2 separate regions of the Homo sapiens genome follow, and region 2 is linked to region 1. Evidence: fine-mapped expression QTL. Tissue or cell type: CD8 T cells. Region 1 holds a variant in brackets; the other region holds the start of a gene. All regions are shown on one strand. Distances are between the middles of the regions. Region 1 overlaps GNPDA1 (glucosamine-6-phosphate deaminase 1). Region 2 holds the start of RNF14 (ring finger protein 14).

Region 1 (15,430 bases):
TTTTCCTGCTCGGCTTCTTGAAAAACATCATTAAACACTGGGCAAGTTGATCAAGTCAGGAAGTCAGCTGGACCCATTAGACTGTGCCCTGGTGTGAGAATTAGCCTGCCATCTTGGCTAAATCCCGAAGTTTGTTGAGTAGATGTATCCCTTCCTGTTGACCTGTGGAGGAGCTGGTGAACGTAAGAAAGGCTCAGTATCAGAAGCCATATTCCCAGACAGATTTGTGGTGTTAGTCAGCAGTCTTTTTTTTTTTTTTTTTTGAGACGGAGTCTTGCTCTGTCACCCAGGCTGGAGTGCAGTGGCTTGATCTCGGCTCACTGCAACCTTCGCCTCCCGGGTTCAAGTGATTCTCCTGCCTCAGCCTCCCAAGTAGCTGGGATTACAGGTGCCCACGACCACACCCAGCTAATTTTTTATTTTTTATTTTTTTTAATTTTTAGTAGAGACGGGGTTTCACCATGTTGGCCAGCCTGGTTTCGAACTCCTGACTTCAAGTGATCCACCCATCTCAGCCTCCCAAAGTGCTAGGATTACAGGTGTGAGCCACCGCACCCAGCCCAAAGTCATTTGCCCAAAGTCATTTTTTTAGTAGTAGACAGTTCTAATTTACATTAGTAATCTCTTCATATACTTTGTATTTATTTTTTCTGTCAAGAGCAATGAGAGTTAATTAGAGGAGATAATAATAAAGTTGTTCACGTGGCTGTCTGCTTTGAAAGGGAATTTCAGAATTTTGACTGGAGTTTGGATCTCCCTCCTACCTAGTATTAACTTTGCCATAAGCATCACCAGCAGGTGGCAGCAGTTCCCATGTTCTAAAAATATCGTCACTAGTTAAGACAGGTATAGAGTATGTTGTTTTGTTACAGAAGTAGATTTAATTTCTGGTATTTAAATTTTCCTCATTATATTTCATTATAGTCTGTTTTATACTTTAGTAGACAGAATGGTATCTAACAGTACTATCAAGGCAGGAACAGCAGTATTATCAGAAATTTTTAAATACTCAAAAGTGTATGTGAACCACAGTTGACATCTTATGCAATTGTTACATAGTAGAGTGTCACTCCTGATAGTGGCACTTAACCTTCAACCACCAAAGTAGGGAAATTAAGTTGTATATAAAGCCCCTAAGTAGGACCAAGGAATTGTAACCCCATGGTGCCCTCTGATGCTGGTAAGAGTAGCCAGCCTGCTCCCCAAACCTTAGCTTAACTAAAAAAATCAGGCCAGACTGAGTGTGGTCAGAAATCTGGTTATGGGAGCTTTAGGGGTATTCTTAGCCAATGTTTATGGTAATAATCAACTTTCATCACCCATCGTTTAGACTGTACAGTTTCTCAGGTTGTCTGAAGATTTACCACTCCAAGGACTCCCACATTTCTCTGAGCCAGAGGATGCTTTGGAGAAGATTGTGTACATTGGAAACTTAGGGAGATTTGATGCTGAAGTTGCTAAGTACAAAGTTAACACAGTCACTTCTTTTCCTTGCTTGGATCTCCTTTTTTCCCTTCATTATAAAAACAAACCAAAAAAGGAAAAGCAGCTAAACTCACACTAATACAACATAAATACATGTAAATTTTAAAAGCGATTGTCTTACCCTCAGTACCATTCTACTTTTTGCAACCTATAGTATTTCCTAGAATAACTCACTTATTTAACAAATACTGATGGAATACCCAGCAATGGGCCTTACTCTTTTTCAAGGTGGTGAGAATGTAGCAGTAAATAAAACAGACATAATCTCCCTGCCCATGTGGAACTTAAATTCTGGCGGAAGGAAAGAGACACTAAGTAAATTATCTGGTTCATCAGAAGATAAGTACCATGGGTCGTGCGCAGTGGCTCCCTCCTGTAATCCCAGTGCTTTGAGAGGCTGAGGTGAGTGGATCACTTGAAGCCAGGAGTTTGAGACCAGTCGGGGCAACATAGTAAGACTCCGTCTCTCTTAAAAAACAAAAAAACACTAAAAATTTGCTGGGTGCAGTGGTATGTGCCTGTTGTCCCAGCTGACATTCAAGAGGCTGAGGCAGGAGGATTTCTTGAGCTCAGGCGGTCAAGGCTGCAGTGAGCCTTGATCACACCACTGCATTCCAGCCTGAATGACAAAGCAAGACCTTTGTCTCAAAGAAAAAAAAAGAAAAAAAAAAAACCATAGAAGTTGGGGAGAAGAAATAGGGAGTTAGGGGAGGCAGGGCAATGTTGGAATCTTAAAGAGTAGAGAAGACTCCATCAAGATAGCACTTGAACAAAGTCTCAGCAGTGTGGGATTGAACCTTCTGGACACCTGGGAGGAGAGAATTCCAGGCAGAGACAGCAAGGGCAAAGCCCTTGGGCTATGAGCATGTAAGAGGGCTCCAGGAACAGTGTGGTAGCCAGTGAGGGCTGAGGCAGACCCAGGAAGAGTGAGAGACGGGATGTAAGCATGTGGTCCTGTAGACTGTATAGAGCCTTGTGTGAACTTTGGCTGCCACTCTGAGAGGGGGCCATTGAGCAGAGGAGTGATAGGGTCAGGCGTGTGCTTTAGGGGATTGGTGAGCAAAGGTGGAAACAGACCAGTTAGGAGGCCATTTGCAGTAGCTCAGGTGAGAAGTGCAGGTGGCTTGTACCAGTGTGCCAGAAGTTAGAATTTTGAGAACTGGTTAGATTCTGTACTTACCTTGAAGGTAAAATTAATAGGATTTGTTGACAGGCTGACTATATGAGAAATTAAGGCATCAGGGTTGATTTCTAGGTATTTTTGTCTGAGCAGTTGAGATGAGAAACCTGTAGGTAGCACAGGTCTGTGGCTGAAGATCAGGAATTTGGTTGTGGACAGGTAAGTTTGAGATGCCTGGTAGTTATCCCAGGGGAAATGATAAACAGGCAGTTGGATATTCTAGTCCGGAGTTCAAGGGAGCAACTCAGGGTAGAGATAGAATTATGGGAGTCAACATGTAAATGGCATTTAAAGTCATGAGACTAGATGAGATTAGAAAGGGAGTGAGTTTTATGTAGAGAAAGGTCCAAGGACTGAGTCGTGGGTCACTCCAGATGCTAAGAAGTCAAGGAGATGAGGAAAAACCAGCAAAGACAGACAGTGGCCAGTGAGGTAGGAAAACCAGCTGTGTGTGGTGTCTTGGAAGCCAAGTCAAGTTTGAGGGAAGGAGTAATCAACTGTGTCATACGCTGCAAAAAGGTCAAGTACTGTGAGCTGTAACAATTGAAGCAGTCAGTATTGAGGTCCTTGGGGACTTTGACAAGTGCTGTTTCAGTGGAGGGCAGTTGCAAATCTAGAGTATGTTTGAGAAAGAATGGGGTGTCCTCATAATAAGAAAAAGGCTAAGCAAACCGATAATCAACAGCTTTTCTTACATCTGTCAGAGAATTGAGGTCACAGGGCAAACCTTCACCGCAAAAACAGGCAGGAAAATGGAGATCGGCTCACCTAAGGCAGAAGCTGTTGGAGACAGTAATTGAGATTTAAACATATTGCTGTGGGCTAAGTGTGGACTAGCTTGAGGGTTCAAAACCGGGAGCTTGTCTAAGGGAACCCCACACTTTGGTGGGTTTTACCTCGAGGAGACCCACTAGGTTCTCCTGTAAAGATGGCAGGAAAATTCCCTTGTGCTTTGGACACGGGAAGGGGGAAAGTAATCCTTTTGAAATACATCCAGGAAGAAATCAGCCCCAGATCTTCTGTTCTCCATGGCAGAGAACAGTTTTCTCAGGGAAAACTACTTGCAGAAGCCTTCTCTAGCTTAGGAGAAGGGCAGTTGGATGGCTCAACCCCCTTCTAGCCTTCCTGTCTCACATAGGAGGAGGAAAAAACAAGTCTCCACTAAAAAAAAAAAAAAAAAAAAAAAAAAAAGACAGATTTAATCATAAGAATATGCAGTGCATCTTCTCACCAATACGATACCATCAGTAGGGCTCCAGGATAACAGTGGATTACAACTGAGAGCTGCAAGACATGGACTCTATTTTAAGAAGGAATTTCTAGGGAAACCCAAAGACAACAGGGGAGACAAGGATATTGAGGAAAATTGGAGCCTCTAGCACCTACAGCGAACATCAGATGCAGCCTGTTAGCCAGATAAACATACAACTCACATTAAAGGTCTGTTTACGTAAGTTCTTGTTACCTAATATATCATGTCTGGCTTCAGTAAAAAAGTACAAAGCATGCTAAAAGGGAAAAAAGAAGAGACAAAGCGAGCATCAGAGCCAGACTCAGATATGTCAGAAATTTGAGAGTTATCAGACTGGGAATTTAAAATAACTGATTAATGTGCCAGATTTCTAATAGAAAAAATGAACAACATGCAAGAATAGTCACGTAGTATAAGCAACAGATGGAAACTTAGAATCAAAAAGAAATG[C/CAAA]AAAAAAAAAAAAAAAAAAAGACCAGGTGCAGTGGCTCACGCCTGTAATCCCAACACTTTAGGAAGCTGAGGCGGGAGGATCACCTGAGGTCGGGAGTTCAAGACCAGCCTGACCAACATGGAGAAACCCCATCTCTACTAAAAATACAAAATTAGCCTGGCGTGGTGGTGCATGCCTGTAATCCCAGCTACTCGAGAGGCTGAGGCAGGAGAATAGCTTGAATCCGGGAGGCGGAGGTTGCAGTGAGACAAGATCGTGTCATTGCACTCCAGCCTGGGCAACAAGAGCGAAACTCTGTCTCAAAAAAAAAAAAAAAAAAGCTAGAAATAAAACACTGAAACAGACATGAATGACTTTGATGGGCTCATAAGACTGAACACAGCCAGAAAGAATCAGTGAACTTGAAGATATGTCAATAGAAACTTCCCAAATTGAAATTGAAAGATTTCAAAAAGGAATGGAAAATTTTTAAAAACAGCAGAATATCCAAGAACTGTGGGATAATTTTTAAAAGTGTAGGTTGGATGTAGTGTCTTACACTTGTAATCCCAGCACTTTGGGAGGCTGAGGTAGGCGATTGCTTGAGGCCAGGAGTTTGAGTCCAGCCTGGGCAACATGACAAAACCCAGTGTCTACAAAAAAAAAAAAAAAAAAAAAAAAAATACAAAAATTAGCCAAGCGTGGTGGTGCACACCTGTAATCCCAGCTACTCAGGAGGCTAAGGTGGGAGGATCGCTTGAGCCCGGGAGGTGGAGATTGCAGTGAGCTGAGATCATGCCACTGCACTCCAGCCTGGGCAACAGAGAACTTGTTTCCAAAAAAAAGGCAAAGTGTAGCTACGCGTAATGGGAATACGGTAGTTCCCCCTTATCCACAGTTTCACTTTCTATGGTCAACTGTAGTCCAAAAATAGGTAAGTGCAGTACAATAAGATTTTGAGAGGGAGAGAGACAATGCTCACATAACTTATTACAGTGTATTATAATTATTCTATTTTTGTAAATTTCTTACTGCGCCTAGTTTATAGATTAAGCTTTATCATAGGTATATGTGTATCAAAAAAAACTATCAGGTTCAGTACTATCCACGGTTTCAGGCATTCACTGGGGGTCTTAGAACATATGCCCTGTGGATGAAGGGGCGACTACCATACCAGAAGGAGAAGAGAGAATAGAAGAGTGAGAGATTAAAGTCAGAGTATGGGTAACTAGAAACTTTACTCTAAAGGAGATCAGAAAAATGAGGATGTACTTAGGGGGCAAATGAGGTACAGTTTTGTTTTTAAATCTTGTCTTGAATGCCATAGGAGTGGTCCAGGAGAGGACAATTTGATGCTGTAGGTGAGAGTTGGGAGTGTTGCCAGAGCAACGTCCTCAAGGAGGCAAGAGAGGATGGGATCTGGTGTGCAAGCAGAGGGCTCGGCCAAGGAGCAGGTAACAGGAAGACAGCAAGTGTGAGAGCAGGGCTGACGTCTGGGTATGTGATGATGGGAACTCGTGGACATTCTTTTCTGATTGCTTCTGTTTTCAAGGTCATTAGCTGAAAGGAAAGCTGGGATAGAGGGGTTAGAGGTTTGGGACCTTATGATTTAGTCTTTGAGGATACTAAATGGACTAGTCTGATTATTAATGTAGTATGACTGCCAGCTGGTGGTAATGGCTCCCCTGAGGTCCAAAGTACTATGTTCTGTTTTACCTGCCCATTATTGCATAACTCTAAATCCTGTCACACTGTATCTTACCGGAAATGGACGTGTTTCATTAGCATCTCATCACAGTAAGGATTTTGGTTCCCAGGAAAGAAGCATCAAATTTTCCAAGTTAGATCTCCTCAGTAGGCCAGTTGGCTAATCCATTATGTAATATGCCATGATTTCCCCTGATTGTTATGTACGATCACTACTCATGGGGACAACTATCAGGCTTATGGTTCAACAAGTACCAGTGCCTTCTAGATATCAAGGCACTGCTATAGGGGCAGAATAGAGCAGTATTTAACATCTACCTTCATGGAGTTTACATTTAGTGGGAAACAAAATACACGTCCAGTGGTAAAGGGTTCTGAGAAAATAGCGCACGGCAAGGATAGGAACTTGGGGATTGCAGCTTTATATTGGAGGATCAGGGAAGAGTTAATCTGATAAATGACATTTGAGGCAAGGCCTGAAGGACGGAAAGAGTAGAAGAGTAGGCCATAGGGGTAATAGCCAGGCTCTTGTGTTCACCTCTACTTTATAAACAGACTAATAGAAGGAAGGTGGCACCCATTGATGTCAACACTGCCACTTTTTACTAAATGTAAGTAAACACATTCTGTCTACTCTTCCTGAAATACAGCTCTGTGTGCACTTAATATTACATTTTCCTTTTCTTATCAAACTTGCTGTTTTACAAATTCAACTTGTTCCAGTCAGCTGTATTTAGTATTTCCTTTTTGATCAAATTGTGAAAACCTGTTCAGTGGGAACCCATTTAACTGGCTGTTTCGTCCTCTCAGAACTGCCTCAGACATTTTTGTTTTGTTTTTTTTCATCCCCAGACTTCCTGGGACAAGCCCCAGACTTTTTTTTTGGAGACGACGTCTTGCTCTGTAGCCCAGGCTGGAGTGTAGTGGCATGATCTTGGCACACTGCAACCTCTGCCTCCTGGGTTCAAGCGATTCTCCTGCCTCAGCCTCCCCAGTAGCTAGGATTACAGGTGCACGCCACTGCACCTGGCTAATTTTTTGTATTTTTAGTAGGGATGGGGTTTCACCATGTTGGCCAGGCTGGTCTTGAACTCCTGACCTCAGGTGATCCGCCCGCCTCAGCCTCCCAAAGTGCTAGGATTACAGGCGTGAGCTACTGCTCCTGGCCAGCCCCAGACATTTTTGAAAGCACCCTTATTTCCAGTAACAAGATATTCCAGGCCTACTCTGATCCCTACCCCCAAACATATTAGCTCCTGTACAAGGAGCCCTGGTATTAGAAGCCCAAGATGACCCAGGGGTGTACATCCCACTTGATCGCATAAGCACTGGTTGTAGCAGTACACTGCTGTTGAGCCACCAGGAAAACACAGACTCAGGAAGGACATCAGATCTTTCTAAGGTCTCAAGTTCATACAGGTATCTCCAGTTTAGCTGTCATCACTAAGTCCTTTTTTGTCTCATTTTAATGTAGTTACTATAACATACTTAAAATTTAAACCCTTCTTGACTGGATAAACAAAATATATGTCCACAAAACGGAATACTATACAGCAATAAAAAGGAATGGACTGCTGCTACGTGTTGTATGAACCTGAAAAATGTTATGCTTAGTGAAAAAAGCCAGACACAAAAGATGTCATGTCACATGATTCCATTTATATTAAATGACCAGAAAAGGTAAATCTGTAGACGCAAAGCAGACCAGTAGTTGCCTGGGGCTGGGGTTAGGAGTAGGGAGCTTTTGGGAATGATAGAAATGGATTGTGATGCTGGGCGCGGTGGCTCATGCCTGTAATCCCAGCACTTTAGGAGGCCAAGGCAGGCAGATCACTTAAGGCCAGGAATTCGAGACCAGCCTGGCCAATGTGGTGAAACCCTGTCTCTACTAAAAATACAAAAATTAGGTGGGTGTGGTGGTGCACACCTGTAATCCCAGCTACTGGGCAGTCTGAGGCAGGAGAATCACTTGAACCCAGGAAGCAGAGGTTGCAGTGAGCTGAGATCGCGCCACTGCACTCCAGCCTGGAAGACAGGGTGAGACTTTCTCTCTTTAAAAAAAAAAAAAAAAAAGGATTGTGGTAAGGAAGTGCAGTATTCTATAAACATAAAAATCATTGGATTTATATCAAAAAAATATATTTTTTTGAGATGGGGTCTTGTTCTGTTGTCCAGAGTTGGGGTACAGTGATGCGATTATAGTTCACAGCAGTCTTGAACTCCTGGGCTCAAGCAATCCTCTTGTCTCAGCCTTCTGAGTGGCTGGGACTACAGGCATACACCACCATGCTTGGCTAATTTTTAAAAATTTCGTAGAGACAGGGTCTTGTTATGTTGCCCAGGCTGGTTTTGAACTGCTGATCTCAGGTGATTCTCCTGCTTTGGCCTCCCAAAGCACTGGGATTATAGGCATGAGCCACTGCACCCAGCCTCAAAATAGTTAAAAAAATTAAACCCTTCTTTTAACTTCTATATCTACCTCCTTAATTGGCTATATTGCCCTAAGATATTCCATTATATTAACTTTAAAAAAAAAAAAACCTATATGTATTTTTGCATACCTTGCAATAATATCCCTCATCACAAATCTGCCTTAATCTTTATAACAGCTGTATCCTCGTTTGGATCTCAGGTACAGCCCCAACATGACAATTTATTGCTCATCTGTTCATTCCTACCCTTTTTCCTGTAAGTGCTCCATTTTCATAAAATCTTATTTTTCACTCTGATGATGGTTGCTATGCTTGTGGCCTTCCTGCAGGCTCTTGTGAGGACTGAATGTGAGGCTTTGCTTACCAGCTCTTTCTAAAATATATAAATAGCCCAGAGAGTCTTCTAAAATTGGGGGCTCAAATCCACAAATGACATGTTATTTGAAAATACTGGATTTAATAGAAAATATCACATTGTAAACAAATCCATTGATCCATGAGCTTAAAACAGAATGACGGCACAATCACATAGAAAAGCTAAAGACAAAACACTGGTACCAAACATAGCCCTTAGGCCTGGGCTAGGCTCTCAAAGGTCTTTCCCAGAAATGGAGGCAGCAGTAGCTTCAAACAGGCACAAAAACAGCCAGGAGGAGGCAGCATCCACTCCATGAAGGCCTAAGACAATGAAAGGAAGCCAGAGCAACAGACCACCTTGGGATCCGGGGAGAAGGGTAAATGGGCAAAAGGGTTGTATTTCCTGATGCTCTCAGAACATCAGACCACACCATGTGAATTTAAGCAGGACTATTTTAAGTGGGGAAACAATACTAGAAGCATTTGGTGTATTTTCCTGGCACTCACCTCCTAGGTAAGCAGGAGAGCGGGACACTCAGGAGTTGTGACTAAACTCACACTTAAGCTGCCTGCCCAGACCGTCCCCTTGGCTGAACACAACACTGAAATTGTGGCAGTGTCTGTTGCCCCAGTGGACCTCCCACTTACTAATGAGTATGTAAAACAGAGGAGCCACAGTGAGGCTTTCACAAAAACACAGGGCTCTGGGGGAAAAACGGCTTCCACCTTCTGCCTTTTGGTGCTGGAGAGTCCCTGAGGGAGAGAAGTTTGACGTGGCTGGGCCCCTTGAGGCTCTGGATTTATCAATAGAAGCCTCCTCTTTGGCCCCACCCACCCAAATCCACCCCCAGGTTCTCCTAGTTCAGAGAAAAGCTGTGAAAGTGGAAGAAGGAAGGGATCGTTTTCTTTCCATTGCACTTGTTACTGACCAAAGAGACTGCTTCCTTGCACTTATTTTAGATATTGAGAGTTTGTGCCTTCACTTGGAACAATGGTTCTCAACCAAGGGGCAGGCCTGTGCAAGAAGGACTCTCAAGACTCTTCAAAGAGGTGGTATCCAATATACATAAGCCCCTAATTCCCTCCCACTTGAAAATCAGTGCGTGTAAGGAGAGAAATTCCTGACGGGAGTGTGTCATATGTGTGAACCATGGCTGAAGCAGAACAAAAAGTTTAAAACTCCCAACCTGGGTTTGGCAGACATCAAAATGATGGAGTACATTTTGCAGATATTTTTTTTCTGATTAAGTTACAAACATTCTCCCTATAGCTAAACTCCGTGACTAGGCTCCCAGCCTCATGGCCAAGAACAATAAGTTCACCCACTTATCTGGAGTAACCATACTAGATTAAAGAAATACAATTCTTTCTTCTAAAGACAATTTCCAGAAAGACCTGCCTTTCCCTATGGGTACTTGACACTAGGTCCCAGCACAGGCTAATCGCTGTATGGTTTCTTCGAAGATTGGCTTTTCTCAGTTTCTTTCTCTTTGATACTGTACAAGGGGTCCACCAACTTGTTATGAACAAGCATTAAACCTACAAAAAATTAAAAACAAAAAGTAGTTAATTCAGGCAGTGGCAAGAGTTCCTTGATTATCAATCATAACATCCAGGAGCTCTCAAATTTTGTCTTAGAGCTGACACTTCTCTCTTTTCTCTATGATCCCCAAATGATAAACACCCTAAGAGTATAAAAAGAGTTATTCACAGTGAGTACTACATTCATGGAACTTTTATAAATTCAATCACTATGGGAGTTGGCTATTTAAAGGTTAGTCTTTTCAGCAAAGGACAAATTCCTAATTGACCTACTTGAGTAAAAGAGGATTTTCACATGTTTGCCTAAAGCAGTGTGCATCCTTTTAAAGTAAAAGAAGGGCTGGGCATCGTGGCTCACACCTATGATCCTAGCACTTTGGGAGGCCGAGGTGGGTGGATCACCTGAGGTCAGGAGTTTGAGACCAGCCTAGGCAACATGGCAAAACCCCGCCTCTACTAAAAATACAAAAATTAACTGGGTATAGTGGCGGGCACCTGTAATCCCAGCTACTTGGGAGACTGAGGCAAGGAGAATCACTTAAGCCCGGGAGGTGGAGGTTGCAGTGAGCTGAGATCACACCACTGCACTCCAGCCTGAGCGACAGAGTGAGACCCTGTCTCAAAAAGAAAGAAAGTAAATAAAAGAAAGGAATCGCTTGTTTAAGATTTGAAAAGAGAAAACCTGAGGCTTAATGGCACTGTGAGGTCACCACATAGTCCTTGGACCACATTGCGTTTTCTTTCCTCCTCCTCAGAGCAAACAGATCTCCAGAAATGGATCTTTGCAGTCACAGGCAGAAGAGAAATGACTGTGTAGTGTGATGCAGTTGGGTTTGATATTTCTTAAGATTACAGTTGTCAATTAAAATGACCAGAGGATGAAAGCTGGATCTACTCCTTACTCCTAGCACACCCTAAGCTTGACCACCTCCTCCTGGACCCACACCTCCCTCACCTTTGAAATACTTGACAGTCTTCACTTTCAGCTCCAAGGTGGCATCCTCGTCACACACAAACACGGTGCGGGGATGCTGCTGGAAGGCAGACACGGTCCACATGTGGTTCACTCCCTCCTCGATGGCCTTGTACAGAGCAAATGCCTTGTGAGCACCTGTGATAAGGATCATCACCTGGGGATCAGAAAACAAGTCTGTGATGGAGGGGAGCATTCCAGACACCCTAAACAGTTGTAAGGATGATTGTTTTTCATATCACATTGTAAGTGGTTACCATGCAACATACTTTTGCTCAGTGCTCCCTGTGCTTTATCACACAAATAACCCGAGGCAGGCAGCATCATTATCTCCATCTTATAAGAAAACAGAGCCCCAGGGGGTTAAATAACTTGCCCAGGGTCATTTATGACCCCAAAGTTCATGTTCTTGACTACCACGTGACAGTGCCTCCAGGTATCTTTGATGATGACTATGAAGGTGCCCTGTAAACAGACATGCCATGCCCAGGCCTGCTATCCCATCAGCTGGGTGACTCTACACAAGCACAGTTTGTGAAAGAGGGCTCCCAACCTGCACCACCAGCAAGGGCACTTTGCAAGCAATGGTGGGAGTTATCTGTGGGGCCTCTAAGGCTGAATCCCAGAAAGGTTGCCCCATTATCTGGTCACTTTCAGTTCACAGCATTAAACCTATGAACTAATGTGACTTGGGGTGATGGTTTTTGTTAATATATAATAAAACAAAGGCACAGTCTCCACTTAACAGTTAAAATATCGAGAATGTAAGTGATCTTAAAGAACTCAGCTCTATTCAAGGGCAGGAAAAGAGAAAAAAACTCAGTTCTGTAGATTTCCTTTCATTTTAATTCACATGTGCCACAGAGTTGTGAACAGGATTTACTGTTCCTTTCTTAAAAGATTAGAATGCAGAAGCAGAGAGGGAATGTGACTATTTCTTCCGGACCCCTCAGCAACCCAGAACTCTTTAGAAAAGATAATTTCCTGATTTCCAGCCCCAGGTCCTTTCCCAGATCAAGATGCCCTCATGATAAAGACGGCCCTAAACCTGTTTCCAAGCTGCAGAGCTAAAAACAGCGAGTAAACACCCCCACCCCACGTACTGATTGAAGATTACCCAACAGAAATCTGGGTGCCATCACTCATTTCACAAAAGTTCACTTTAAACAGGGAAGTTTTCACTGATTTAGATGCTTGTTTATTGGCTTGGGCAAAGAAATGTAAATCTAACATGTCTATACACGTCAGAAAGGAAGAGAAAATGCTTCTAAAGTTCTAATGAAAATAAGGAAATTGGAACCACAAAAAATTCACATTCAAATGATAGCCAATTTTTTAGGGGAAAAGCTAAATTCAGTTTAAAACACTTATATTTTAATCATACTTCACCACATTTATTAATCTCTGAGCACGGGGCTAGAAGCACAAGCATCCTTGGTGTCCCAACAGTGACCTCTACCAACTACAAGGAACAAGGGAACCCCTCTCTCCATACCTGGTCAGGTACAAATATTCCAACATTAGCGATGCTGGCCTCCTCTCTGCCTGTGAAAAGCATGAAAGGGGCCTGAGGCCAGAGAGCCTGCTGTCTCAGGCAGTCAGCCAAAGGCACCAAAAACGTGCTCAAGGGATTCACCTCACACTGGGAATAATGATGTCTTCCAAAGACGCAAGAGGAACAGTGAGTAACAGGGTCAGCAGGGATTTTAGCCTTATTTACCATGCCTTCATCTTTAATAAGAATGTAGGTGGTACCAGTATAGTTAAGATTAACAAGAGAAAGACAAGTCCACCAGCGCAAGCTGGTGGGGCCCTTATGCCCTTACCTCTCTAGCATCCATGACAGTGCCCACCCCCACCGTCAAGGCCATGGTGGGCACCTTGGTGAGTTCTCCATCGAAGAACCTAGCATTGGCCAGGATGGTATCCATGGCCAGCGTCTTCACACGGGTCCTGGACACCAGACTGGAGCCTGGCTCGTTGAAGGCAATGTGTCCATCAGGGCCGATGCCTATAGGGAGAGAGCCCGTGCAGCCCTGTCAGTCCCAGGGATCCAAGATTTCAAGAATGGACAATCTCTCCTTCCCTAACTAGGGTCTGAAGAAAAATCATTGAAAGCTGTGTCACCTTTCTCATTTGCAGCCCTGGGCAGGTACACCTTAAACATGTGATCTGTCCCCCTCCCTACCATTTCTTTCTCTTTGCCATACTGTCTCAGAGGAGACCCTCCCCATCATGTCTATCTGAGGCACACACAGACATTGTTAACTTGCTATCACCCTCAAAAAGCTGAGGAGGAAACACTCCAAACAGCTTCTGCCTCCCCAGATTGTCAGAAAAGTGGACCTTCTCTGTCTCTTCTGCCTGTAGTTAGAGGGTCCTGCTGCTGGGATAGAGGTGCAGTGAACAAAACACCCAGAGAACCTGGACAGGGGCTGCCAAGGTTCTAAAATCTCAGAGGATGAGAGGTCCTGCCCCCCTCCTCCCCACCTTGAAGTATAGAAGAGTGATCTCTAGAGCAATAAAAGGCAGTTCAATGTTACCCCTCATGGGTAACTCCAGAGGTGGCGATAGATGGATACACAGAAGGGCAGCCCAGAGGACCCGAGCACAAATCCAAGAAGCACACACTTGCTCCCACCTGTGAACCTTGAGTGAGTCACCTAACTTCTCTGGGGTTCAACTGGCTATCTACAGGGGCTGTGTGGAGCCTTCCGGAACTACATGAGTCCATGATGTTAAATGTTTAGATAAGTTCCAGGACTGATCCATAAAACCTTAAGACTGGGGAGTAGACAGAATCTCAGAGTCCAAACCCAAACCTCTCAGTTTACAGACAAGGCATCAAACTGCAGAAAGAGATCTCCAAGATAACATAGTTCCTGAGTAACAGAGCCAGGCAGGGCCCATTTCTCCCGCCTCTGTCTCTACGGTCACTAGCACACCCAGAAGAAGCTGTCTGCAGACAGGCATTGTGTCTTGTCCTCCTTCCCACGGGTCTGGCCCTGGACATGTGTGCTGCAGAGTGTCAAGCTCACCTCCAACAAATAGCTCGATCCCACCTGCAGCCTTGATCTTCTCTTCAAAGGCATCACATTCTGCCTGTAGGTCGACTGCATTCCCATCCAGAATGTGGGTGTTTTCTGGGTGGATGTCAATGTGCTTGAAGAAGTTGTTCCACATGAAGGAGTGGTAACTCTCCGGGTGGTCTCGAGGAAGGCCTGTGGGGCCGTGAGACACTCGGTTATGCCTAGGCCAAGCCAAAGCCCCTCTCCTAAGAAGGATGCCAGGACACCATGCTGACCTACAGAGACACTCCCAGGGGTCTGCCCATCTGGGAGCCTTAGGCACCAGCCCTCTGACCCCTAGCCACTCGGCACAGGCTGAGCCAGTATCCATAAGTGTCCACCCACCCAGTACCACCATCTGTGGCCACAGGGCTTGGCCAGAGTAACTGCACACCAAGGGCCTGGGAAATCCCCACATTCTGATCTGATCTGCTTTTCATAAGGCAATGACCATAGGTTAGAGGCTGGGGACACTCTGGCCACCTGGGGTAGGGCTGAACTCATCTTAGAAAGCAAGCAAGCACACCCCTCACCCTGTGCCTCTCAACCCACCATCCACTCCCAGTTCTACCCCACTCAGCCTGAATAAATCCCAGCTTGAACACCAGGTGGTTAGAGAGAACTATCTTAGGGCTTCCCCAGATCAACTTTTTTTTTTTTGGCCAGGAAAAAAAAATAATGTTTAATGTTAAGCATTAAGAATATGTAAAATCAGCCTTAAAAAGGAAGGAAATTTTGACACACACTACAACAATGGATGAACCTTGTGGACTTTATGCTAGGTGTAAGAAGCCAGTCAAAAAGACAAATACTTTATGATTCCAGTTATATACTCTAGTTTGATTCTAGAGTAGTCAAATTCATAGAAACAGACAGTAAAATGGTGGTTTCCGTGGCTGGTGAAGTGGGAAATGAGAAGTTGTTGTTTCACGGGTATAGAGCCTGAGTCTTACAAGATGAAAAGAGTTCTGGAAATTGGTTGCACAACAATGTGAATGCACTTA
Region 2 (15,430 bases), 30 kb before region 1:
AGGTGATCACCTCTGGAAATGAGGTCCCCATTTAGCAATTTTCTCTCCTCCTTCTGGCTGCAGGGGTCAGCTGATCTTTAGCAGTCAAATGCCAAGGGGTGAATGGAGCTGTCACTAGAGTTCGTCTGGAAAGGCGACGTTTTCCTGAGTTTTGAAAATAGGTTTGAAGGAGTGGAGGTACTCTGAAATAGGTTTGAAACAATTGAGGACAGCCTCCCTTAAGTCCAAAATATTTTTTTTAAAAGGGCAGGATTAGGGTTTGTGCTTGAAGGCCTCACTAACCACCAAACTTGGGGTTGTTCACACTTGGGTTCTTAACCACAGGGAGGGCTGAGGGGTGAAGTGGGAAGGGTGGGGGTTCAGAGAATCTTCTTAAAACACCTGGAGTCCTAAGGAACCTTGAGGGGTCAGACTAGTAAGGTGTGACTCTGACCCTTGGAGGACTCCCAGGCCAGCTGAATGAAGGCTGAGATCACACCTCGCCCCTACGAATGTCCCGCTGGGCTGGCTGCCCCACTTCCAGGGCTCTGGTCTTCCAGGCTTTCTCCTCGTGAATCTCCCCTGTGGTTGCCACAGCATCACCACCAAGACAGCTTTGGGGAAGCCAAGAAGCATCCTCCGGCTTATCCCAGGTAGGGAGGTGGTTGGACCGTCCAAGCTCAGCGTCTTTTTTCAGGAAGATCTTGTTGAAGTTAGATTCCTAGTCAGACCAGGAATCTTGACTGGGAGACTCAGGTAGATGTTCTGGGTTATCTGCTCCTAGCAGGGCACTTTGTGGACTTTGTTGAGACAGATGACAGGTGCTGTCTCCCACACAATGGCACCTGTTTCTGGGGTCAGTGCAGAAAAAAGAATGCACTTTGCAGGGAGAAATTTGCCAAGAAATAGGACCTTTCAAGAAATGAAAAAGCTTTATGTCTTGGTTAACAGCGGCAGTTCTCAAAAGGGTCCAGATATCGAAGTCACTTGGAAAGCTTTACAAAATACCAGGGACAGGGCAAGAAAATTCATACTTTTCCCTTTCCCAGAATACTGCCAAAGAATAGTCTGTAATTGCCAGCTCAGTTCCGCACCCTTCATTTGGGACAGGGTTGGGGAATTTGATTGGACCTTTTTGCTGGAAAGAGAGGCTAAGTTGATTTACGTGATAAAAATAAATAGACGGGAGGAGGGAGATTTCTGCAATCTGAGAAAATTCTGGAGAGCAATACAGCAGACAACAGCAGAGGCTGTGAAGGAGGTAGAATGAAGATGAAAAGGACTTTTGAATTCGTTATTGCAAATTATAGACCTCCTTCATGATTTTCAAGAAAAATACAAGAAAAGATTTGTATGTTCTTTTCCAAATTTATTTTGTGCGTTAGTAACCATAACATGGACCCAAAACTGGACCACTTGAGTTCTGGGTTGATAAGAGTTACACACACATGTCTTTCTCCCCAACCTTCGAGAGGAAGGGCACTACTTCTGGTGTACAGATTTCAATTTTGATATATTCTGGGTGATTCCGACATGCATCCTTATCTCCACCCCAACTTCATCGAGAACCACCTATTAGAAATTCTCAGAATCACCATCCCCCATTGCAAAGGCCAAACTCTATAGCGATCAGGCCTTTCTTAACCCAGCATCCTCATGGTCCCCACCTCTCCCTGACATGTGTGTCACTATTCATTATAGAGTTCCATACTCACCTGGTTCTCTCTCCATATTTCTGCAGACTCCTCTATCTGCCTCTCTGGCTCCTTCTTTGGTTTTCCTTCCTTCTAACTCCCAGGTGCAGGCATGTCCCCTAGAAGCTATCTTCTGTCCTTTCCTCTACGTAGGGTTATTGGTCCAGAAAGGGGTTGCCAGATTTAGTAAATAAAAATACAGAGTGCCCAGTTAAATTAGAATTTCAGATAAACAATGAATAATTTTAGTATAAATATTTTAATCTGACAACTCTGCCCAGAAATAATGTATGCTTTCAACACAAGTTCCTTTTTTTTTTTTTTTAAGAATTTTGGTTTGCACAGTGAATTTGAAAATCTATTAGTAAACAGAAAAAAAAATCAAACATATTGACTGGGAGCATCATCTGTGCATGAATATTCAGAAGCGAACTCTGTTGATTGGCCTTGTTATGTGTTCAGCATTTCTGGGTGACTCCAAGATCGAACTGTTTTACACGAAAGAACCACCCTGGAGGAAGCCTAGATTACACTCATTTATTAAATCATTCAGTCATCCAGTCACTCATTTATTTGGTGGAATTTAGCATGTTCCTCTCTATTTACAAGGTCATTTTTTTGGCAAGGGAAGTAGCTCAAGTTGACCCACATTTTCCCTTCCTCTAAACCATTGGCTTGGTTTTTTTCTTCATATAGAATCTAATCGGCCTAATTCTCTCCTTGCTTCAGAAAGGCTCTTGCAGGAAGGAAAATGAGTCTTCCCATCGTTACATAAATTCTCATGGGGCTTCCCTTTATAAGTTTATGACAGCCAGGAGTTGAGCCTGGAGCTCTGAGAGAAACAGCCACACACTGATTTATGATGGCAGCTGCTGCTAAATCTCACCCCTCTTTCCTCCTTACAGAGCCATGTTACCTTGGGGTTACAAAACTCTTTTCACTGTTATTCAGGGGAATAATAATAAAATGCCAGGTTGCGAGTATAAACATGATCATTCTGTGCCTATTATTGTAAATCAAATTTTAGCTTGCATCAAAAGCACAGAAAACATTTTATACTGTCAGCCACCTCAAGCCCTTGTAGCAGTCTGTCTTTATATAACCCTGGGCTGACCTGACCTGAGTTATTGTTTAGGTTGCACTGGCCAGGGAAGCTGGTCACGCAGGTAATCTGGCTATTTCTCCTTACAGACCCAGCTGACCACTTTCCTTGAGCCAAGTATTGACTTGGTCTAAGCATAGCAATGGGGTTAATGATGTGGGCCCAGGGCACCAATTGCCTGGGTTCAGGGATTGGCTCTGTAATTTACCATCTGTGTGACGATGGCAAGTCAATTATCTATGATCAGTTTCCTTAGCTTTAAAATAGGAATGATGATGATGATGATGGTGCTATGTTATAGGGTTGATGTTGGGTTTAGCTTAGTTAACATACAGCACTTAGAGTGGGGCCTGGGATATAAGTAGCACTTTAAGCGTTATTTATAATTGTGCTTCTAGTGTAGGCACTTCCAATTTTTTAGGATGAAGCCTCTATTTTTTTAAATTTTGTTTTATTTTTTGAGACAGAGTCTCATTCTGTTGCCCAGGCTGGAGTGCAATGGTGCGATCTGGGCTCACCGCAACCTCTGCCTCTTGGGTTCAAGTGATTCTCCTGTCTCGGCCTCCCGAGTAGCTGGGATTACAGGTGCCCGCCACCAAGCCCGGCTAATTTTTTTTTTTTTTTTTTGTATTTTTAGTAGAAGCAGGGTTTCACCACATTGGCCAGGCTGGTCTCAAACTCCTGATCTCAGGTGGTCCACCTGCCTCGGCCTCCCAAAGGGCTGGGATAACAGGCATGAGCCACCACGCCTGGCCTGAAACCTCTAATTTTTTTTAAAAAAAAACAATGTTTCAGAGGCCCACATGATAATAGACTTTTAAGATCTACATGATGAGCAAATACACAATGACAAGAGACCAGCAAGAAGTCAGGGACACTTCTGTACTGGGGTAGGGCTCATTAAGGTTCAGTTTTATCCAAAAGTTGGGCAGGGTTTTCCTCTCCACACTGCTGCCCCTCTGTGTTCAAGGGCTTGTTGCAGGAGTGCTTGCGAGTGGTGGCCATGGAAAAGGAGGCAGTCCCCCCTGGGATGGTGGGATGAGTTCAGCAAAGTTTCGGGACAGCTACCAGATGCCAGTGATGGATGGGAACAAATGCAGGCACCGTCAGGTCTGCTAACCCCTATAGTGACAAGCCATAGTTTGTGACTCACTTCTACTCTCCACTCCGTGGCCTGGGTCCCGACCTCTGGTCTAGGTGGTACACTGTAACCTCTCCTCTCCCTAGGCTCCGTCATCATCCGGTGTCCCTGGGGACAGGGGGTGGGAGTTGGGTCTCTTTCTCTGTCTGTGTTCTCATTCTCACCTATCCTTAAGTCATAAACTCGAATCCTAACTTCCCCAGGGCCTTCCCGTTTAGTTCTTAAGGCCAGAACTATTTTACTCTCTGTGAATTTGTTACAAAAAACCCTTATTCTCTGACAGGCTCCTGGAGAGAGTCAGACTGATGAGGAATCGGCTCTAACCCTGGCTCCACCACTGTGTGATACTGGCCAAACCTTAGTGCCTCCATCATCTTTAGCAAACTAGCACAGGAACAGAAAACCAAATACCACATATTCTCACTTGTAAGTGGAAGCTAAATGATGAGAACACATGGTCACAAAGTGGGGAACAACACACACTGGGGCCTACCTACTACAGGGTAGAGGATGAGAGGATGAGAGGAGGGAGAGGATCAGGAAGAATAAAAAGTACTAGACTTAATATTTCGTCACTGGGTGACGAAATAATCTGTACAACAAACCCCCGTGACACGAGTTTACCTACATAACAAACCTGCACATGTACCCATGAACTTAAAAGTTAAAAAAAAAAAAAAAAAGTGGCCCAGGCGCCGTGGCTCACATCTGTAGTCGCGGCACTTTGGGAAGCCAAAGCGGGTGGATCACTTGAGCCCAGGAGTTCAAGACCAGCCTGGGCAACATGGTGAAACCCCATCCCTACTAAAAATACAAAAATTAGCCAGATGTGGTGGTGTGCACCTGGAATCCCAGCTACTCAGGAGGCTGAGGCACGAGAATCGCTTGAACCCTCTACCGGGAGGCAGAGGTTGCCGTGAGCTGAGATTGTGCCACTGCACTCTAGCCTGGGTGACAGAGTGAGACTCGGTCTCAAAAACAAAACAAAACCCCAAAGTATAATACACCTGACTTCAACTTTATGACATTGCTGTCTTTTATTACATCTTTTTATATTAAAAATAAATAAAAATGTCATAAATAGTAATTGTGTAAATATAAAAGGCCTTATTAAAAAAACAAATCTTAGTGCCTCAGTTTTCTCTTCTGTCAAGTGGGCACATAAAATTACCTAAGTCATAGGGTCCTGGGCATTTAAATGAGAGAATGTACGTGAAATATTTAGCACAGTGGAGGGCTAGGCACACGGGGAGACTGCAGTTTAAAAGACTAACCAGGCACATGAGACCAAAGACACAAAAGTCTGTTATTTTCCTAGAGTCAAAAACAAAACTTATTAGAAGGCTGTCTTTACCCAATCTTGTCCTCAAAATTGACTCTAAATCTTTAGTTCACTTTAAACATTCAGTAAATTATTAACACTGCTTTGAAATTCTCTTTCTATTCTCTCTATCCTGTGACCTCTGACATGATGTCACAATTCACCTTCTGCTCTGACTTTGTGAGGATTTCCCAAGCTGGTTGGTGCATGGGCTTCCTCACTTTTTTCCTCACGAAGAGGTCTCTGGTCTCCCCTCTCTGAGCACTCTGAGGTAGGGTTGCTGTGTGTTTTGCTCTTGGTCTAATTCCTTTGGCTAAACATGAATAATTATATTAATGAATGGCTTTGGAGATTCTTCTTCCGTCCTTTGCATTTTTCCGAGATATGTTTCTGGTTTTGGTATCTATTAGAAGGGTATTTTGGTTTCTGTTTTGTGACAATCAAGATTTATAGTACAGAAAATTAGAAGTGATTATTTCTATTTCAAGGTTCTTTCTGTGGCAGCCAGGTAATCCCTTGGGTGCCCTGATTTACTCACTTGGTTTTTTTCTCTCTCCTGGGTATAAGACCAACTACATAATTTACAAAGCCCAGGGCAAAATAAAAATGCAGCCTCTCATTCAGAAATTATTAAGAACTTCAAGAGGGTGAGAGCACAGCATCAAATCAAGAGCAGGGCACTTCTTTTTTATTTTAATTTTTCCATAAGTTATTGGGGTACAGGTGGTATTTGATTACATGAGTAAGTTCTTTAATGGTGATTTGTGAGATTTTGGTGCACTCATCACTCGAGTAGTATACACTGCACCCTATTTGTAGTCTTTTATCCTTCGTCCCCCTCTCATCCTTCCCCCTAAGTCCCCAAAGTCCATTGTATCATTCTTAAGAGCAGGCCACTTCTAAATCTGGGGCCCTTCTAAGTGCAGGGCCCTATGTGACTGCACGGGTTGCTGGCCCATGAATCTAATCCTGCCCGGGAGGCAATGGTGGTAAAAGCTTTAGAATCCTGTAGGCTTGGGTTAGAGTCTTAGCTCTGCAAGTTACTCTTTTGGAGGAAGAAATATATGAAAAAGCGGACACAGGAGCTTATTAGATTGTGAGGAGCACATTAGTTTGATGGGTCCCAGGAGAAGGAGCCAACATTTCTGTATTCCACTTAAGCGCTGAGAACGGTGCTTTGTACCTAAAAAAATTTTTTAATTAAGACATAATTCACATGCAATAAAATTAACTCTTCAAAAGTATACAATCCAGTGGTTTCTAGTACACTCACAAAGTTATACAACTATCACTGCTCTCTAATTCCACAATATTTTCATCACCCAAGAAACACCATATCTATTAGCGGTATCTATTAGCAGTCACTTCCCATTCCCTCCTGCCTTAGTTTCTGGCAACCACTAAACTACTTTTTGTCTCTATGGATTTGCCTATTCTGGACATTTCATATAAATTAAAAACAATATATGGCTTTTTGTGTTTGACTTTTTTTTTTTTTTTTTTGAGACGGAGTCTCGCTGTTACCTAGGCTGGAGTGCAGTGACTCACTGTAACCTCTGTCTCCTGGGTTCAAATGATTCTCCTGCCTCAGCCTCCCTAGTAGCTGGGACTACAGGTGCCCGCCACCATGCCCGGCTTATTTTTTGTATTTTTAGTAGAGACGGGGTTTCACCATGTTGGTCAGGCTGGTCTCGATCTCCTGACCTCGTGATCCACCCGCCTCGGCTTCCCAAAGTGCTAGGATTACAGGCGTGAGCCACCGCACCCGGCCTTCTAAGGGTTTTATAGTTTTAGTTCTTACATTTAGGTCGTTGATCCATATTTAGTTAATTTTTGCATATGGTGTGAGGAAGGAAGTGTATAATTTTAATTCCTGCTTAGCCTGACGATAATCATGTGACCCTTGGTAAGTTCTTGCACCTAAGTCTCAATTTCCTTATTTGTAAAGTGAGAATAACAAATGGTAGCTAAATCATAAGATTACAGTGAAGATAGAAAATTTACGTAGAGCATTTATCACACTGCTTGAAGCATCCTAACTACTCGATAAATGCGGTCGGTGTTACAGTTATAACATGAGCGATGAATGCGTGCTTCCACAGTGGAGTGCCAGAAAGACCGGCAGCATTTCTGAGAAGGTAAACGGGAGGAAGTAGGCTTGCTTAGTCCACTTGGAGAAGCAGGTCTGGGATTGTTGTGAGAGTCTCTGCCCTAGGTAGACCACTGCCTCATGATCCCCTCTAGAGATTGGTAAAAATTCGAATTCTCGGGCCCCATCAGAACTACTGAAAAGAGCCTCCTGTGAGCACAGGGCTCGCAGTAAGTGGGGGTGACGGTGGTCGCGCCGGCAGCGCCGCCTTGGGCCTGCGGGAGGCGCCCGAGAGGCAGGGGCGACCACGGCGGCTGCGCAGAGTCCTCCCTATGCCGGCGGTCGCGCCAGCGGGATCCGCCTGGCTCAGCTGACAGCTCCCGAGAACGGAAGAGGCGGCGCGCCGGTTGAGCAGGGCGTCTCTAGGCCTGGTCGGCTGGCGGCGGTGAGTGGGCCCCAGGCAAGGGCGGAGGGCGGAACTTTGGGGTTCGGCACTGCCGGGCGGCCGGAAGGTACGGTGGGGATAGCTCTCTGGGCGCGCGAGGCAGAGAAGGGGACCGGGCTGGGACTGTACACTGGGCCTCAGTCCCTCAAATCCGGGACCGGGCGTCCGCAGCTCGGCTGGCCGGGACTCCCTTCGGGACGCTGAGGAGGAAGGGGAAGGTGTGGGCCCTGCTCCTTCGGGACGCCCCAGGCTGGCCAGCAGCTCACACATCCGCATTGCGCCCTCTGATCCCAGCGTTGGGGCGGATAGCTAGCGTTGGGCCTGCCCCTGTTTTGGGGCAGTCGCCCAAACGACGCCGCACGCCTAGTGGCGAGCTGAACCCAGACTAGGACACCCGAAGACCAAATGGATAGAGTGAGAAGGAAATGGGGGTTAGCAACCTGAATTGAGGTACTGGATTCCAAGTGACAGCTTCACAAGCTGAAATCTTGTAGGGTAGGTCATGAGGAACTGTTGAAACTGCTTGGAGTAGAAGTTCTTAGCCCTGGCTGCATATTGGAATCACCTGGAGAACTTGGAAAACTACTGAGGCCTGAATTAATTGTTCTAGGGTGTGGCCTGGGTATTGAGATTTTAAAAAACAGCTCCTCAGAAGATTCTAATGTGCAGTCAGATGGAGAACACTAACCTAAAACCATAAACTGCATGAATGAATCTCTCATCCCATTTGCAAATGTTTTAACAGGAAGAAACAAAAAGCTTAATTCAATTAGCACCATATACTCCCACCTAGTAAAATAAGACAATGTGAAAGGACCTAATACAGTACATAGTAGGTGCTCAATTAATGTAAATTGATTCTGAATCTCATTCTTATCTCATTTGGGAGTTACACATCCGAGAATCTGGTTTTTAATTATGGTTTTGTATATAGTATTTTTGCATATAATTTTAGGGTGTTGATAGGATTCTCCGTAGCCCATCTATAGACCACACTCCCTTTTCCCCTCACCCCAGTGAAGAAGCCTAGCTCTAAAGCATTTAGAATAAAACTTAAAAGTTTGTGTTTGTGTACTCTTGTTTTGTTTAAGTATTTTTCTGTTACCAAAATTAACCTTGAGTGCCACTGGCAGGCTTAATTCATGAACAAGAGAGGAAAAACTGGAGGGGAGTGGCAAATGAAGGAATACAAGAAGCAGAAGAGGAAAGGAGAAAAAAACAAAACAAAAAACAAACTGAAGAGATTGTTTGTTATGGGGCATGGTGTCCTGTACTTTCATATGACCTTGGTGTTCCTCCTTAGCTCCTCCCATAGCTGAGGGCAGACAGATAAAAAGTCCTCAGTCATTGCTGGGGACATGCAAATACTCCTTTAACCACATGGCTCAGTTAGCCTGCCCTAGGAGAGTAACATGCACTTGTAGATTAGGATTGGCTATATGTTAGGATATGTTTGACTTAAGCAGTGATCATGGAAATTCAGAATTTTAATTTGGAGAGGGTCCTAACACCATCTTTTGTATTTCTTTTCTGCAGATGGCAGGATTTTCATAATATATGTAGTATGAGTTCCACATCTTGGCCTCTTACCCAGCTTCAGCAGTCTCAGCTCCACCAGTTAGAGAATAAATGGGATTTGCATGAACTCCACTCTGAGCTGAAATACAGACTGCGGTGTTAATATCCTTTTCTTCTGATTGTTATTAACAGGTACTAACTGACCTCAAGTAGAACATGTAATTGTGTCTTAGATAGGGATGCAGCTTAAGCAGAGCCATGAACTAACATCTCCTAGAAAAAAAGTGTTTTTTGAAAATGAAATCATTTTTAATTTCATAGTATGACCTTTTAAAATGTAAAAAATCCTAACTTTTTACTTATGTACATTTTAATTAAAAATATTTTAGTTGTGAGGGAGGATATTTGCAAATGCAATTGTAGTTCAATATTTTAATTGACTGGTAGTTTTGTTTTATTAAAATGATTTTTGTAAATTCTCATTGCATATTTTTTTCACATTTAAATTATCTGAAATTGCTGTATCTTTCAGTTGATGCTATTTTAAAAAACATTGATTCATACTTTATTTTTTGAGACAAGGTCTTGCTCTGTCCCCCAGGCTGGAGTGCAGTGGTGCAAACACGGCTCACTGCAGCCTCAGCATCCAAGGCTCAAGCGATCCTCCTGCCACAGTCTCCTGAGTAGCTGGGACTACAGGCACACACCACCACACCTGGCTAATTTTTTATAGAGACAGGATCTTGCTATGTTGCCAAGGCTGATCTCAAACTGCTGGCCTCAAGTGATCCTCCTGCCTTGGCCTCCCAAAGTGCTGGGATTACGGGCATGAGCCACCATATCCAGCCAGTTCATACTTTAATTGTAGCTAATTTCTTTTTCTTTCTTTCTTTCTTTCTTTCTTTCTTTCTTTCTTTCTTTCTTTCCTTTCTTTCTTCTTTCTTTCTTTCCTTTTTTTTTTTTTTTTTTTTTTGGAGACAGAGTCTGTCTCTGTCACCCAGGCTGGAATGCAGTGGTGCAATCTCAGCTCACTGCAACCTCTGCCTCCTGGATTCTAGTGATTCTCTAGTCTCGTGCCTCAGCCACCGAGTAGCTGGGATTACATGCGTGTACCACAATGCCCGGCTAATTTTTTTATTTTTAGTAGAGATGGGGTTTTGCTGTGTTGGCCAGGCTAGTCTTGAACTCTTGGCCTCAAGTGATCTGCCTGCCTTGGTCTCCCAAAGTGCTGGGATTAAAGACTTGAGCCACTGTGCCTGGGCCTTGTAGCTAAATTCTTAGTATTACCTAAAATAATGGTAAATCTTTCTTAAAATTATTATCTTTTAAATATTCTTGAGTCATAATGGTGAATCTTTAAATTGGTGACTGCTTGGATTTGACAAAATCTATTATTTCAAAAATTTAATATTATTTTGCTGCTTGCTCAGTTATCTAATTTTCTTCCATAATATCTATGCCTGTAACATTCTCAAGCACTGTTTTCTCACCTGGGAGCAATTTTGCCTCCAACCCCCATCCTGCCCCAGGACCTGGCGCTATTTGGAGATATTTTTTTTTTTGAGACAGGGTCCCACTTTGTCACTCAGGCTGGAGTGCAGTGGTGCTATCATGGCTCACTGCAGCCTCGACCTCCCAGGCTCAAGTGATCCTCCCATGTCAGCTCCCCAAGTAGCTGGGACCACAGGCAAGCACCACCACACCTGGCTAGATATTTTCAGTTGTCACAGCTCTTGTGGGTGGAAGCGGGCCACTATTGGGTATCTAGTGGGTAAAAGCCAGGGGATGCTGTTAAGATTCTATAATGCACAACACAGCTCTCCAACAACAATTATTTACTTCAAAATGTCAATAGAGCTGAAGCTAAGAAAACTTGCCCTAAAGATTCCTGTGGATTTAAAAAATTTACTTTTTTGTTTTTTTGAGACAGAGTCTGACTCTGTCGCCCAGGCTGGAGTGCAATGGTGCAATCTCAGCTCACTGCAACCTCTGCCTCCCACGTTCAAGCAGTTCTCCTGCCTCAACCTCCCGAGTAGCTGGGATTACAGGGGTGAGCCACCACACCCAGCTAATTTTTGTATTTTTAGTAGAGATGGGGTTTCACCACGTTGGCCAGGCTGGTCTCGAACTCCTGACTGCAGGTGATTTGCCCGCCTCGGCCTACCAAAGTGTTGGGATTACAGGCACGAGCCACCGCGCCTGGCAAATTAACTTAAGAAAGGAGTGTAATATACTTTGACCACTTTTGCGAACCAGGCACATTGCTAGGTTCAGTGGACAAGTCAAAGTAAATTTGTGATTTGTCCTTTTCAAAGAAAATTTTCAAATTGTGCTTTTTTTCCTCTAATTCAGTCATAAAATATCTAACTGATAAGATCAGGAATTAGAAGTACCACAACCATCCCTTTTGAAAAAGACTGTTAATATTGCAAAACTAATGGAATGCCAGATATGGCTGTCATTTTTGGTTTAGGAGAAAAGTGATAATATCGATTAATTCTTTGCAGTTGTTTTTTGTGCCATTAAGCTTTTTCCACCTCTGTGCATTTTCTTTTCTTTTTTTTTTTTTTGAAACGGAGTTTCACTCTTGTCGCCCAGGCTGGAGTGCAGTGGCGTGATGTTGGCTCACTGCAGTCTCCACCTCCCGGTTCAAGCGATTCTCCTGTCTCAGCCTCCCAAGTAGCTGGGATTACAGGCACCTGCCACCACGCCTGGCTAATTTTTGTATTTTTAGCAGAGATGGGGTTTCACCATGTTGGCCAGGCTAGTCTTGAACTCCTGACCTCAGGTGATCCGCCCGCCTCGGCCTCCCAAAGTGTTGGGATTACAGGTGTGAGCCACCACACCCGGCCAGCCTCTGTGCATTTTCTGTTCTTAACTGATTTTAATGTTTTCAGGTCCTTATGTCGTCAGAAGATCGAGAAGCTCAGGAGGATGAATTGCTGGCCCTGGCAAGTATTTACGATGGAGATGAATTTAGAAAAGCAGAGTCTGTCCAAGGTGGAGAAACCAGGATCTATTTGGATTTGCCACAGAATTTCAAGATATTTGTGAGCGGTTAGTTAATAATTTCTTAAACAGATTTTTCTATTATTCTTTATTTCTTAGTGTACCTTAAACTATTTGTCATTTTGTGTTTTAGGCATTAGTGATAGGTGGTAGTATTACAGAGGTAATGCATGTTTCTGTTTTAAATGAAAATTGCAATGAGGGGCAAGCAGTTTTCAATTTGATTCTACCTTTTTGATCACTGAAGAGGGATATTATCCTGCATATTTCATACATCCTGGTCTGCTAACTAGCAGTTTATCAGCCATGAGTCATTGGCTGTTACATAGCAGTAATCAAAGAGAAAATGAATGTATGTGAAAACGCTTAGAAATTTTCAAGTACAGTGGTGGTGGTTAATACTATTTGGTTTCCAGAATCATTTCAACTACTATAAACATATGACACATGCTATTACTCTGTGACCTTTTGCTTCAGAAAAAACAAAACTGCTGCTTTTGATACAGACATTTACAGAAGACTTTGATGCACACTTTCTCAAAATGTTTCTACTATAAAGGGATTGAGTAAGGAAAGTAAGTGTGGTAATTTAAATGAAACTTTGATTGTGAGAGTGTTGTGTGCTATATTATATCCTCAAACCTGAGATCATTGTGTTGGCACAAATTTTCCCAACTGATTCATGGGTAGTTGGGACATGCTGGTCTAAGTGGGACATGCTGGTCTAAGTAGGTCATGCTGTTCAATGGAAATGAACATCCTTTCTCTAGATTGTGTCTTCAATCATCCACTGTAAACCAAACCACAACAAAACAAACATTGTGTGTTCCTTGGTCATTAGTGTTAGGAATTGTACTCAGAAGTGTATACAAGAATAAGTTGTAGTATTTTCATTATACATTTCATGGTGCTGTAGATTTTTCAAGGGCTTACAAGATTTTTTTTTAAGGTGGTGGCTACGAAGTTAAAATTAAGAAATAGAAAGTGCTTTGGGGGAGGGTTTTTATTCCCTCAACTAAAGCATTAAGTCTTTCTTGAGCGCTGCTCAACAGTAGTGGACACTCAAGTGTTGACCAACTGATCCTTTCTAATCTTTGTTTTTGGTTCAGGCAATTCAAATGAGTGTCTCCAGAATAGTGGCTTTGAATACACCATTTGCTTTCTGCCTCCACTTGTGCTGAACTTTGAACTGCCACCAGATTATCCATCCTCTTCCCCACCTTCATTCACACTTAGTGGCAAATGGCTGTCACCAACTCAGGTTAGACTTGAAACTTAATTTTTCCTATCCATTTTTAGAAACTTAAAAATCACCTTTAATTGAAGACTATCTTAAAGATCTTGAATTCAGTGCATGAAAAACAAATGGCTTTGGTTTTGTAATTTTTTTCCCTTGCCTTGGTGAATCCTGATGTTAAGAAATTGAAAATGTTTGGTGTTTTAAAAAGGAATGGCAGTAATTAAAACAATCATGAATTGTAGTAGGAGTAATTTTTAATCAAGTATATTATTTCTTTTCTTGTCTTGCTATTTTCCTGTTTAATCTGTATTATAATGGAGACTAAGAGGTCTTCCTCATTTTCCTTAGACATTGATACTACTTTTCTCTTAGTTTCTTATCCATTCCTTAAATGAAAGATTCCATTGTAATTAGGACTAAAAATTGAGCTAATGTAGTTATAATAAGCAAATTTTCTGAGTGAATACAATAACTGATTTTCTTTGTAAAAATCTGTATTAATAACAAATAACAGTCAACTGGTATCACGTAGACATAAATGCATACAAGTAGAAATGTGTATAGTTCCTGTAGATATCTCAGTAAGGCTTGAGGCCTTATGTTAAGCACCTCATTTCCTCTGGGTTATATATACTTTTCTAGTAACAACCTCAACTCTTGATTGAGACATAAATATGGCTTGAAGCTAAATATAAATAATATAAAGCATTCTGGGAGAGATAATGAATCAGCAGCTGCTTTTCTAGAAGTCATAATGAAGATCAATAGACTAATGTGTATTAAGACAAAAGCTCAGCCTGTGCAACATGGCGAAACCCAATTTCTACAAAAAATACAAAAATTAGCCAAGTGTGGTGGTGCGTCCCTGTAATCCCAGATACTTGGGAGGCTGAGGTGGGAGGATCACTTGAGCCTGGGTGGCAGAGATTGCAGTGAGCCAAGACTGAGCCACTGCACTCCAGCCTGGGTGACAGACAGAGACCCTGTCTCAAAAAAAAAAAAAAAAGAAAAAGACAAAAGATGTCAGAGTTGCTGACCTCAAGGAATAGCTCATTAGTTTTTCTCTTTGGATCATACAGTTTTCATTTCCCCATCCACCAATCTAATCTTTTAAGTGAGAGTACTTTCACAAACTAGAGCTTATGGTTTAAAAGCAAAATTAAACCTTAAAAAGGATAACACAGGTAGAATAAAAAGGAGTATTACTTTACATTCTAATGTCTGTGCCAGAGGCAACAGATGCAAGACAGTTGATTTGTCCAGGAATATCAAGACTGTTTGGCATTTAGGCCACTGATAGTTGGCTTAATTATTTAGATCTTCATAGTCCTATTTCACCAGAGAGCTTTTCATACTTTACATCCACGCATGTGCGTGCATGCACGTGCATGCACACACACGCACAAAACAGGGACAGATTAACTGGATGCGTGGTTGTGGTTTCAGATTCCAGCCAACCAGCATCTACTTAATGCTGGATTTGGGGGCGGAGGTGTGTGCTGGGGAAGAGAGTTGTTTTATGTGTTACAGCTAAAATTACAGTAGAATTCTTAATCAAATAAATGTTTATGCATATAATTAACATTTTAATTGGTCTCTTATATTCCTTCTTGGTTCAGTTCTTGTTTGTTGCTGTACCCTGATTCCTTGGCATTATGACTCTCACCTGTTAATGGTGAAATTGACACATAGAGCTGTCATTCCCTGAATTGGGGCGGGTAGACAGAGGGAAGTGGTTTTAGTTTTCTAAAACCTTATTCCTTATTCCTCCCCCAATATACTTACACAGTCTCTTTCCCGTCCCCCTTCCATTTACATGCATTCCAGCTGCCTTTCTCTCTCTTTTTTTTTTTTTTTTTTTTTTTTTTTTTTGAGATGGAGTCTTGCTCTGT

Evidence for each region. PIP is the estimated chance that this variant, and not a neighbour inherited with it, causes the effect.
Region 2: RNF14 starts here. The variant in region 1 is fine-mapped to the expression of RNF14 in CD8 T cells (CEDAR, PIP 0.90).

Annotation. Positions count from the first base shown.
Region 1 is chr5:141,991,748-142,007,177 of GRCh38, forward strand. GNPDA1 (glucosamine-6-phosphate deaminase 1) reads right to left here. Exons shown (of 7, transcript NM_005471.5): 4 at 14,397-14,579; 5 at 13,185-13,369; 6 at 11,341-11,515; 7 at 8,924-10,382. The coding sequence ends at 10,282. Among named protein-coding and RNA genes, the nearest start is that of GNPDA1, 14 kb to the right of the region's middle. The variant C/CAAA (reference allele first, on the strand shown) is at 4,368.
Region 2 is chr5:141,961,397-141,976,826 of GRCh38, forward strand. It overlaps RNF14 (ring finger protein 14), which reads left to right and starts at 7,709. Exons shown (of 9, transcript NM_004290.5): 1 at 7,709-7,771; 2 at 9,308-9,481; 3 at 12,187-12,346; 4 at 13,408-13,559. The coding sequence starts at 12,193. It overlaps LOC124901095 (a long non-coding RNA gene), which reads right to left and starts at 8,384. Exons shown (of 3, transcript XR_007058977.1): 1 at 8,212-8,384; 2 at 1,695-1,818; 3 at 1,151-1,229. RefSeq lists a silencer at 7,492-7,631 and an enhancer at 7,742-7,891.